Linked DNA regions of Homo sapiens: region 2 is linked to region 1. The links come from fine-mapping of genetic effects on gene expression. A gene starts in region 1. The other region holds a variant in brackets. All regions are shown on one strand. Distances are between the middles of the regions. Region 1 holds the start of DYRK4 (dual specificity tyrosine phosphorylation regulated kinase 4). Region 2 overlaps DYRK4 (dual specificity tyrosine phosphorylation regulated kinase 4).

Region 1 (5,384 bases):
ATATCTATATTAATGTGAAAATAATTAATTTAGAATTGTGATTAAAGTGAGCATTTGTCTATTGCTGTTGTACACTTCTTTTATCTAACGTATATTTTTATAGTGTCATATACCAGCCCCCTAACCTGCCCCACCTGTCCCCTTTTTAAAAACATATTTTCCAGTTACATAGCACTGAGGTACTCTATTTGGTGTAGATCAACAATAAACATAAGAGCCTACTGTATATTAGGTACTGATATAATTGATTAATCATCTGGCACCAGCTCAATAACCTGTTTTTGCCGTGTTCTTTATAGTTTATCAGGGGATTTGAAAATTACCTCAAAGTATGTTAAAACCAGCCTGGCTGAAAGCACTGATACCTTTATGTTGCCAAACCCAGTGTACAATTTTCTCACCTAATCTTATACACCCTATTCATTATACTCTGATGAAAACATTTGATTTCCTTGGCTCATGTGACACATTTCTTTGTCATTTCTTCCCATCTCCATGCCTACTCTTCATTATTTTGCAGCTTTCTAATCTGTTGTGTCACCTTTACCTACTTGTCTTACCAGTTTCATGTTCTATGCAAACTCCAGGGGTCACTTATGTGACAGTGACTGCCAAGTCAGGGTCTGTACCCTATACCATGCTCTTGACAACAGAACCTGTGGATGGTCCACTGACAATTTGATGTAGCAGATCAGTTGTTAAATTCAACGTCTCCTCCTACCCCTGACATCTCTCCTGTGTTTTCTGTTGGTAAATGAATGGCACCACCATCACTGCAGGTGCCAAAGGTGTCATCCTGGGATTGAGTCTTCTCTCGACTTTCACATCCAGTCACCAAGTCTTACTCCATTTCCTAAATTTCTCAAAACTACTCTTCCATGTGCTCTCCCTTACTCTGAAACATCATCACTCACTATTTCTAACAGGCATCCTTGCCTTGATTCTTAACCTACTCGGGCCTACTTCCATTGTTATTGCCACAGAGGGTTTTATAAAATAAAGTCAGCATGAACACCCCTCTGCAGTCTGCACATACACACCTTACCCTGGTCGAGTTCATAGCCTACTTGGTGTCTGACTCCCCCTTTCCTGCTGCTTCAACCTTGTCTCTGCCCACGTGCAACTTTGATCCCTGCCCCACTAAACTGGGTGCTGGCACAATGGTACCAAGCTTTTCTATGGCTCTGGCCTTCAGAATAGGACTTGCCTCCTTTACGTAGACAACTACTGCCTGTCCTTGAAGACTCAGATTCAACTCAGCTCTTTCAGAAAGCTTCATTTGAATGTCTTTTCTGCCTGGACCAGACTGTGCACCTCCAGGTCAACCTACTGCCACTCAATTACAAATTTCCCTTTTCATGCTTTCTACAATCTGGTGCAGAGTAAGCACTCAAAAAGTGTTCAGCTGATATATGGATTTTACCCAGAACTTTTGCTATGTACTTACTTTTTTTCTTTTTCTTTTTCTTTTTTTCTTTTTTTTTTTTTTTTTTGAGATGCAGTCTCGTTCTGTCGCCAGGCTGGAGTGCAGTGGCGCGATCTCGGCTCACTGCAACCTCCGCCTCCCGGGTTCCAGCGATTCTCCTGCCTCAGCCTCCCAAGTAGCTGGGACTACAGGCACGCACCACCACGCCCCGCTTATTTTTGTATTTTTAGTAGAGACGGGGTTTCACCATGTTGGCCAGGATGGTCTTGATCTCTTGGCCTCGTGATCCACCCGCCTTGGCCTCTCAAAGTGCTGGGATTACAGAAAAAAATGTCTAAATAGAGACAGGGGCGGGGGGGTCTCACTACTTTGAGCAGTTTGGTCTCGAACTCCAGACCTCAAGTGGTCTGCCTAGGCCTCCCAAAGTGCTGGGATTGCAGGTGTAAAACCACCGCGCCCGGCCAGAACTTCTGTGATGTAATTCTGATAACCACATGCTTCGCTTGAAGAAGGGGAGAGAGTAGGGATAATTTCATGTGTCCGGTCTGGGCAACCAACTTTAAGTTCTTTATGCTGGGATTTTGTTCAATTCTTGCCCTATACTTTAAAGAACTGGGGCAAGAGAATGCGAGTAGGAGGACGAGGAGTATGTTCTTCAGGCTGCTACTCTGCAAGGTGGTTTGGGACCACAGCCTGAGAAAGCCCTTCCAGCTCTGGAGTCATAAAAAGGGCGGGAGCCGTTTCTATAGCGACGGGAGGAGGGCGTGGCCGTCCCTTGCCCTCTGCCGGGCTCTCACAGCCTCCCGCAGCGGCGGGCGGTCAGCGCCGGCCTCATGCAGCTCCTCCCGCCGCCTATCCGCACCGGAACAAAGTAAGGGCCGCGGAGGCTCGTACTTCACGAGCAGTCAGGCGCGAGTACGAGGCAGGCGACGAAGCTTCTGGTCGACGGGGTCGTGGGGGGAGAATGAAAAGCGTGCAGAATGCAAGAGCTGACCGGGGAATGTGGGTCAGAGAGAGGCGGGCTGTGGTGCGCGGACAAGAAAATACAGTTGTAGTTTTTGCAGCAGCTGCATCCCCGGAATCCGACGTCAGTATACTTCCATGTTAAGATGCTGTCGCATCGGCGACTCCAGCTGAGTGCAGGACAGGGAGCGAGGGGTTCTGAGGAACTCAGCAGACCTATCCTGGAACTGTGCTTCCAGCCCTCACTGGGACGCCAGACTTTCTTCCTCCCTTTCTTTCTCTTCTTTACTGCATGTCCTCTTGGTAGTCGTAAGTGGGTCCACGACCACACGCCTCGCGTGGATGAGGCTCTGGCAGGCATTACTCATGTTCCCACCCAGCCCATATGCCCGGGCACCTCTGTGCTCAACCAGGGCCCAGCCCCTGACACAAAAGCGCGCGAAGGTGTGTGTAGATCACACACCCAGAGCTGCCACTCAGGAAATTCCCAATATTAGCAAATCTTTCCTTAAAAAAGAGATGAACAATGCACAATTTGAGGGTTTTTAAAGGCTATTCTGTGACATTTGCTGCATTTGAAATGTCCAGCAGCCCCTCAAAGCTTAGGAAAACCGTGACCCCTCTGACATGTCTTAAGCAACGGACAGCATCACCAATATTAATTCAAGCTTCACTGTCCAGGCTTAAGTGGAGACTCGGCAAAAGCAGGAGGCCATTTAGTGGAAAAGTTCAAACCGTGGAAACAACAAATGAAAATGTCCTTTGTCTTGCTTGAGCGATTTGATCACCTACATGTGGTCGGTATGTAAAACCTAGGAGTTCGAAGAAATTCTTCAAACATGCACTCTACCTTATTGTTTCTGTTACTTAAATCTGTTGTTTCTCTTGTTTGTTTTGGTCCTTATGGAGAAAGCAGAGGTAAATCGGAAGGGACTCTCTAGCAATATGCCAGCCACTCTTCCCTGACTTTGCCCTCTCCAACTCCACATATTGTTGCCTGCAACTTGGCTAGAATGCATAGTCCTCAAGCGTGTGGAGGACCCAGTGCTGGGATTTAGTGGTTTTAGCTGACTCTAAGCCCATCGTGAGTGTGTTGTGATGGCTCCCCAAAGAGCAAATGCTGGTGGAGGCTGCATTCATAGAAATGCAATGACCACATCAAAGAATATGGTCGTGCTGCCTGACTTAGCAATGAGTAGAACATAATCCAGACTCTAGAAACTGTAGCTACTTTGAGATCACAAAGAACTGGAAAATAGGAACAACCACAAGGCAGGCTCTCTCTGTCAGGCCTGGGTGTGCCATCACATGAAGAGAGGTTTGAAAAAACTTCACAGAATGCCTGGAGATGAGGAGATGCAAGGGAGAGAAAGCTTTTTTCTACTCAACTTTTGAACATTCAAGAACTCTTGAGTAGAAAAGAGATAGATTTGTTCCTTGGTACTCTGCAGAGGATAGCAAGGATCAGTGGAGGAAATTTTGCTCAATATAGTTTATTCTTCCAAGAAATATCAAGTACCAACCCTATGTAAATTAACAGTTGAGTGTGAAATGGGTTGCCTAGAAAAACAGTGCACTCTGTCATAGAAATATTCCAGCATAGACAGAGTGATTGCCAGGAATACCATAGAAAGAGGATTCTTCCCCAGGGTGGGAAAATGGATGACATGGTCTCCAAAACCTCTTCTAGCTCTTTAGAGTCTGGGAGTCAGTGAACCCTCAAGAGTCTCAGGGATATATGCAGAGGGTCCAAGGAATTCTCTGGCAGAAATGAGTGTGACTTAAAATACATTTAGATAGAAGAAATAAGACCTAGTGTTTAATAAATCAGTAGAATGACAATAGTAAACAATAATCTATTGTATATTTCAAAATAGCTAGTAGAGAATAATTTGAAGCCCTGACTTGATTATATATTATATAAATATAAATATACATCTATTATATATCAATTAAAAAATGAATGTAACTTAAGTTCATTAAAAACATTATCACCTGTTCACAGAATGCAAACGGAATCCCTGCAAACCCTGCACTGCCATACTTTCTGCCCCAAAGACAGCCCCCAGGGCATAAAGATCAAGCTACTGGCAATTGCAGTAGAAATCCTAAAATCATAACAGGTAAATCTCAAAAGACTTGTTTCCTTTCTGGATATTGAAGTACTCTATACACAGATGATGTGTATATATTAATATAAAATACTATGCAGTGCAGTAAGGCTGGCACCTCTGTGGATCTGCCTTAACCTTGAGTCTTCGAACTCCTTGAAAACAAGGCTTCTGTTTTATTTATCTTTGAATCCTCCATGCTTAGCCCAGTAGCTGGCACACAGTTGATGCTCTGGAATTTTTTGATGAATTAATCTATTTTAGATTTCTCTTCCCTCAGCAAATTTGTACCAAGTTTTCAACAGACAAGTCACTGTCCTTACCCCAAAAGGAATTTTTTAAAAATGCAGGATCACCATCTATGTCTCCAAAAGACTAACAATCAATATGAGACAAAAAATATATGCACCTAAGATAATTAAATGACACTAAAGCTCTTGACCAAGTGAAAAAATGGTTTCTTAGGCAAACACACGATTGAACGCTCGAGGAAAGAGAGGAAGGGGAAGGAGAACTCCGATCTGCATGTAAGATGAAATGAGAATGGCCAAACTTTTGGTTTCAGTTCTCAAAGGAACATTCACTCTAGCTCTGAGCTGAGTTTATTAGTTATCTTCAATCCTTCATGTAACAAGATACAAACGAAATATAAAAAGCAGTTTAATTCTTTTCCACATAGCTCACCACATATTTTGAGGATAAAAAGGTAGCATTTGCAAAGCTTTGAGCAAGGGTTAAGTTGTACTGTTGGAAGCCAGAGTTCATGCATAAAAAAAGAAAGGCACAAAATAGTCTTTAATAATCACAGAATTATCCAAGGGATGGCAAAGTTGGAATAAGTCACAAGAGATTTTTTTTTCAGTCTGTCAGTATTTTTGTAGAAT
Region 2 (5,384 bases), 42 kb after region 1:
TCTTTCTGTCAAGGGGAAAGACAGTATGTTGAGGTCACTGATGAGATATGTGCAGACTGTCCTGATTAGATTTCCCATTCCCTTTACTTCGATCTGAGATGGCAGCAGAGCTTGGACAAGTCTTGCGGTTGAGTGGTGGGATATAAGCCAACTTATAAGTGGAGGGATATAAGCCAACGGCTCTCCTGTTGATGAGTGAGTGACAACATCAATCTTTGCTGCAGAATCTTCTTTCTTGATGCCACTGACACAGGAGTTGGAAGATCTGGGTAACACCTGCTGAGGGTCATTTTCTGTACTATTTGCATTATTAATGGGAGGCAAATACCCCTGACTCTTCAATGTCTTGTAAATTCAGAAGTTCAAATTTTCCATCTCTCTCTACCAGTATTGTCCTATCCTTGTTTATTTCACAGCTTCCATTAATAAGTGACAGGAGCATATTTTCTTGTCCCAAATCATTGGAAATACATCACTGTGACAGTTTCCCAAATATATTTCTTTCATTTTCAAAATAACTTTTGTAAGTATTAGTGTCTTTTAGTGGAGGAACTTCCAGATCAACTAATTTGTCCTTGAGCTTAAATTTTCACTCCCTTTTATCATTCACGGGTTCTTGATTCTATAGAAGCTTGTTAGCTTGTACAATTTTCTCCATAATGTATCACCTTACTTCCTCATCCTCTTCCTCCTCCAAGTCTTTCTGGCTTTCTAGTTTGGACTCCTGGAAAGAGTTTTCACTATCTGAATCTGATATGGGATCCAAAGGTTGAATACTCGGTACCGAAATGAAGTCATTTCTTCTTGGTGAGACCTCATCCTGCAAAGATTTGTCAGGATCAGAAAGCTGTTTGCTGTGTTCTATTACTGTTTCATTCTCTTTTAAGTCTTGGTTAATATTCTCTTCCTTCTCACAAGCCATCTCTATTATGCTGGCATCACTTTTTTCATTTTCATTAGTTAACCCCTCCAGGTCCTTTTCAGATTCATCTTTGTATTCTTCACTTTCTTTTGAATCAGTCTCTTTATTTTCATTCATTTTCCTCTCTCCCACCATTAATATTTCTACTCCACACCGTCCTTCCCTTCTCTCCCTCTGTTTCCCTCCTGTCTGTGTAAAATGCGGCGGCTGGGGTCACAGAGACGGCCAGGGGAGTTCTCCTCTCCTCCGCTTTCTAAGCTCTTCACATCGAGGCAAGGGAGACCCTGGCACCTGCCTCCGCAGCAGCCAGGACCACACTGCCATGGCAACAGCATGCCTCTGTGTCCTCCATCTGGGCCTCTCTGGCAGATCAATTTTTGAGGACATAAAACCTTTGTGTCTTTATGTATGAATCCTATAAGAAATTCCAGCTAAAAAGTAATGCTTCCCACAAAGAACTTGTATGTTTTCCCTTCTCAGATGTTGAAAGCTGTGTAACTTTTCAGTTTTCATTTATCTTGGCTGCCAAGATGCTCGGAACTGAATTCGTAATTATTTTATCCTTGGTTTCTAGCAGTCATTTCCCCCTTTGCATATTTTCTGACATCTTTTTTATCTTTATTTTAACTGTGAGGCAGTATCTAATATTGATGCTAGAATTAAACTGCCTACTCTCAAATCCCAGCTCTGTCACTTATAGCTGAGTAACCTTGACATTTTAACCTCTGTATGCCTCAGTTTTCTCTTCTTTAAATTGGAGGCAATAATACTACTTGCTTCACAGAATTAATGTAAGGGTTGAAAGGGCTTATCTATAAAAGTACTTGGAATCGTGCCTGGCACATACTAAACATAATGTAAATACCATTAAATCCATGTTCTAAAATACTCTGTGCATGTGTACTTTGCAAAGTACCACAAACACATTTGGGAAGCAGGCAGGATATAAACATTATTTTTATTAAATCTCTATTTTGTTTTAAATCACAGAATTATGTTCTGACAATAACCAATTTAAACAACAGAAAAGTGGTTACAGAATCCCTGCCCCTCCCCAGGTAACCAGAAACCCCAGTTATGCGGAAATAACTACCGTGTTCCATTTCTTCGACTTCAGTCTGTTCATCCTCACCTGTTGAGAATTTTCTTTCTATACAATAAGTGCACATGCTATATTGAATACAGACTTTGCATGCTCCCTTTCTAACTTGATATGCTCCCTTTCTAACTTGATAACTC[T/C]CTTGCCAAGTCACAAGACTCAGAAGCTGTCTACCCCAAATCAATCTGACAGTTTGAAAACTTAGTCTTATATTTGTCTTATGTTTTGTTTGTTTGTTATAAACTTGGCTCACTTAGATTCACTTTCCTACGACAGTGCCCACGTTGGAGTTCGTTATCAATAAAGCAGGGACAGTCACACCTCCTTTATAATCAGGTTGCTGGCGGATTTGATGCTGTGATGGTGTAATGGGAGTTCTAAGTGCTGGCCAGCTGCACTTCCCTTTCACTGCCAGCGGGGGCGCAGTCTAACTGAGAAGTTGTCCTGGGGGAGAGCGTTCTGGAGGGTAAGAAGTTTGTCCCACGAGGTTTCTCTTACTTTGCCTCCGCAGTATACACGTACATCCAAAGCCGGTTCTACCGATCCCCAGAAGTGATCCTGGGCCACCCCTACGACGTGGCCATTGACATGTGGAGCCTGGGCTGCATCACGGCGGAGTTGTACACGGGCTACCCCCTGTTCCCCGGGGAGAATGAGGTGGAGCAGCTGGCCTGCATCATGGAGGTACGCGGAGGGCTGGCGGTCGGCTCCCACGGAGACCGTGGGCTTGGCCCTCAGACACGGGGCTGCACCAGACTCGCCCAGGACCATGGCCTGCATACCTTGTTGTTGTTGTTGTTGTTGAGTATTCCCTAAAAGGAGTTTTGAAATTGTGTACTCCCTTGTACTTGTCAAGTCGACATCTAACGTTTTATCATAAATTTAAATAGTTGCAGAGGATGTCATTTCCATCATATTGTAAATAGTGACATTTTAAAATAAAATTACACCGCTCTTTCAAAAATATCCAAAAGAATGCAAAACCAGACGGACATGACACCCATTAAAATCTATCTGATAGTATGTGAACAGGTTCTTAAGAGTTGTGCCATGATTTTACTTTGTTCTTTTTTCCCTTTTGTTTCTACTCTTTTTTCTACTTCCTCTATGGAATTTTATTCTAATTTAATATACGTTTATGTTTAGAAACTTCTATCAATCATTATAGCTTTAAAAATTTCCTGATACCGTAAGCCTCATGTGTAAAAATTTCTTTCTGGTAAGTTACCATTAAAATATATCTGGTGTGCAAATTTTGATAATTATTGAAAATAAAATGTGAAATCTTATTGGGCATACAGCTCTTAGAAAAATGAATAGAGCTGGGTTTTTTTTTTTTTTTTTTTTTTTTTTCCAAATTAATGCCTATACCCATAGGTGAATAATGCTTCTTGCTAGAATGCCCGGGCTCGGGATCAATGTGATTCCAATTGCTTGGTGGTGTAGATGTGAACCCAGTGAGGAAGCCTGTTCTAATTAATGTCGTCTAATTCGGTGACTCCTTTTGAGTTCTGTGTAAGAATCAAATGGTGATCTGTCATCTAAAATTATGTTTACCAGCCTGTCAGCTGACAACCCGATTAAAATGTTGAAAACAAAGAATTGGAAATTATTTGACTTCAAAGTATGTGTATTGTTCAGGCATTAGTCATTCATTATGGGAAATGACAGTTTTCTGGGAAAACTATCTCCTAATAGCAAGGCTTGACCAAGACTCATGATATGATTATTAATTATATCTATTATGCTTTCACTTGAAAGCCATCTTGTTTTGGAAATAAATTAGACAAAATAGAAAAATAACTTTAAAAATTTTAAATTTTACATTTTAGGATTTTCCCAGTGAACAAAGATATTTTGTGTGCAAACACCAAGCTAGCTGGCTGGCTGGCTATCTATCTATCTATCTATCTATCTATCTATGTATCTGTATCTATCTATCTTTGCCAAATTTCTATTTTCCAGATTGTCTCAAAGTTACAGAGAAACACATATAGCCTTGAGAATGACTAAACATAGATAATTTCATTTCATGATCGAAACTAATAATAAAATATTAAAATAACTTAGGTAAAAATAGCTGTGGTGGAATGAACACTGGCCTGCGAGTCATTAAACCTGGGGTCTTAGTCCTGGCTCTGTCTTTTTGACTAGGCATTTCCCAGCTCTGGACTATAAAATGAGGGGAGCAGAGAAGATGGCTTCTAAGGTTGATAATGAATGATTTTATAAAGCATCCCCAGACCACTCCTGCTTCCAATACCAAAGAGAACGGGGCCTATGTTTCAAATTTCCTACAGCCCCAGAACTGACTCAGCTTCCTCTTGACCTCAGTGTCAAAGGGTCTGAGGAACAGAAGAGCAGGATAATGGATGGATTATGGGTGGGAACCGAGCAGCAAGGGCAGGTGACCCACACTGTAATTTCCTTATCTCTGTGTGCCCCTCTAAGTTGCAGTAGGAAAAGATGAACAAGTAGGTGCTACACTTTTCTTTTCAAGAAGGTATTTTGTCTTATAATTGTCTGATGCTCATCCGGTGATTTTCATCTTTTCTTCTCCCTTTCCAGTGCTCCATGGTGGGATATATCATTCTTTAATTCTGACATGGCAGCATGTGTACTAGTTTATTTGCTTTGACAATGACATCTGGCTGCTATCAAGGGTGGTGGCCCACCCCTAGTTGGTGCTGATGTTTGTGTAGAATAACATGGCCAGTGTTGATTCTTAGGATATGAAACCAGCCCTGGATTAGGAGTTAAAAGGCCCAGGCTCTGGGTTTGCTCTGCTACTGACCAGATGTTATTACTTAATGCTTTGAATCCTTATCTGTAGAAGGCAAAGCTTGGCCAAAGTACGCTCCACCCCTCAGCCTTTGAATCTGTGCTCCCACAAAGAATGAACCAATTGAATTATCCTTATTAAGGTGCTGGGTCTGCCGCCAGCCGGCTTCATTCAGACAGCCTCCAGGAGACAGACATTCTTTGGTAAGTCCTAGTGTGTCTCATGAGGTGTCACAGGCCTTGAAGACACCTGCCATACCTTAAGGCTCATTTCATTCTTTTCCCCTGGCCACATACCAAAGGGCTGTGATTAAGAGCGTCTTTCAGAGAAGTAAAAGATAATGAGCAGGGGAATCGGATAGCATGTTGGAGATGGGATGGGGGAGTCACAGTGGGAACAGGGTCTTGACAGTAAAAATGCTCAGGAGGAGGAGAATAGCCAGGTCCCTGCTCAGAAGAGCTATCAGCAAATATTGCAACCTCAAAATATTGTAACTGCATCCTCTCCCGGAAGTTCTCCCCACTCTCCCAAGCAACTTGCCCTCTCACACTATGCACTGTGCAGGGAAATCAAAGAGCAGA

What was found. PIP is the estimated chance that this variant, and not a neighbour inherited with it, causes the effect.
Region 2: its variant is fine-mapped to the expression of DYRK4 in whole blood (TOPMed, PIP above 0.99).

Annotation. Positions count from the first base shown.
Region 1 is chr12:4,559,987-4,565,370 of GRCh38, forward strand. It overlaps DYRK4 (dual specificity tyrosine phosphorylation regulated kinase 4), which reads left to right and starts at 2,222. Exons shown (of 15, transcript NM_001394779.1): 1 at 2,222-2,297. The coding sequence starts at 2,260. It overlaps RAD51AP1 (RAD51 associated protein 1), which reads left to right. Exons shown (of 9, transcript NM_006479.5): 9 at 1-61. RefSeq lists a silencer at 2,057-2,351.
Region 2 is chr12:4,602,382-4,607,765 of GRCh38, forward strand. DYRK4 (dual specificity tyrosine phosphorylation regulated kinase 4) reads left to right here. Exons shown (of 15, transcript NM_001394779.1): 11 at 2,533-2,705; 12 at 4,946-5,006. It also overlaps the pseudogene LOC103568124. Among named protein-coding and RNA genes, the nearest start is that of DYRK4, 43 kb to the left of the region's middle. RefSeq lists an enhancer at 2,440-2,779. The variant T/C (reference allele first, on the strand shown) is at 2,162.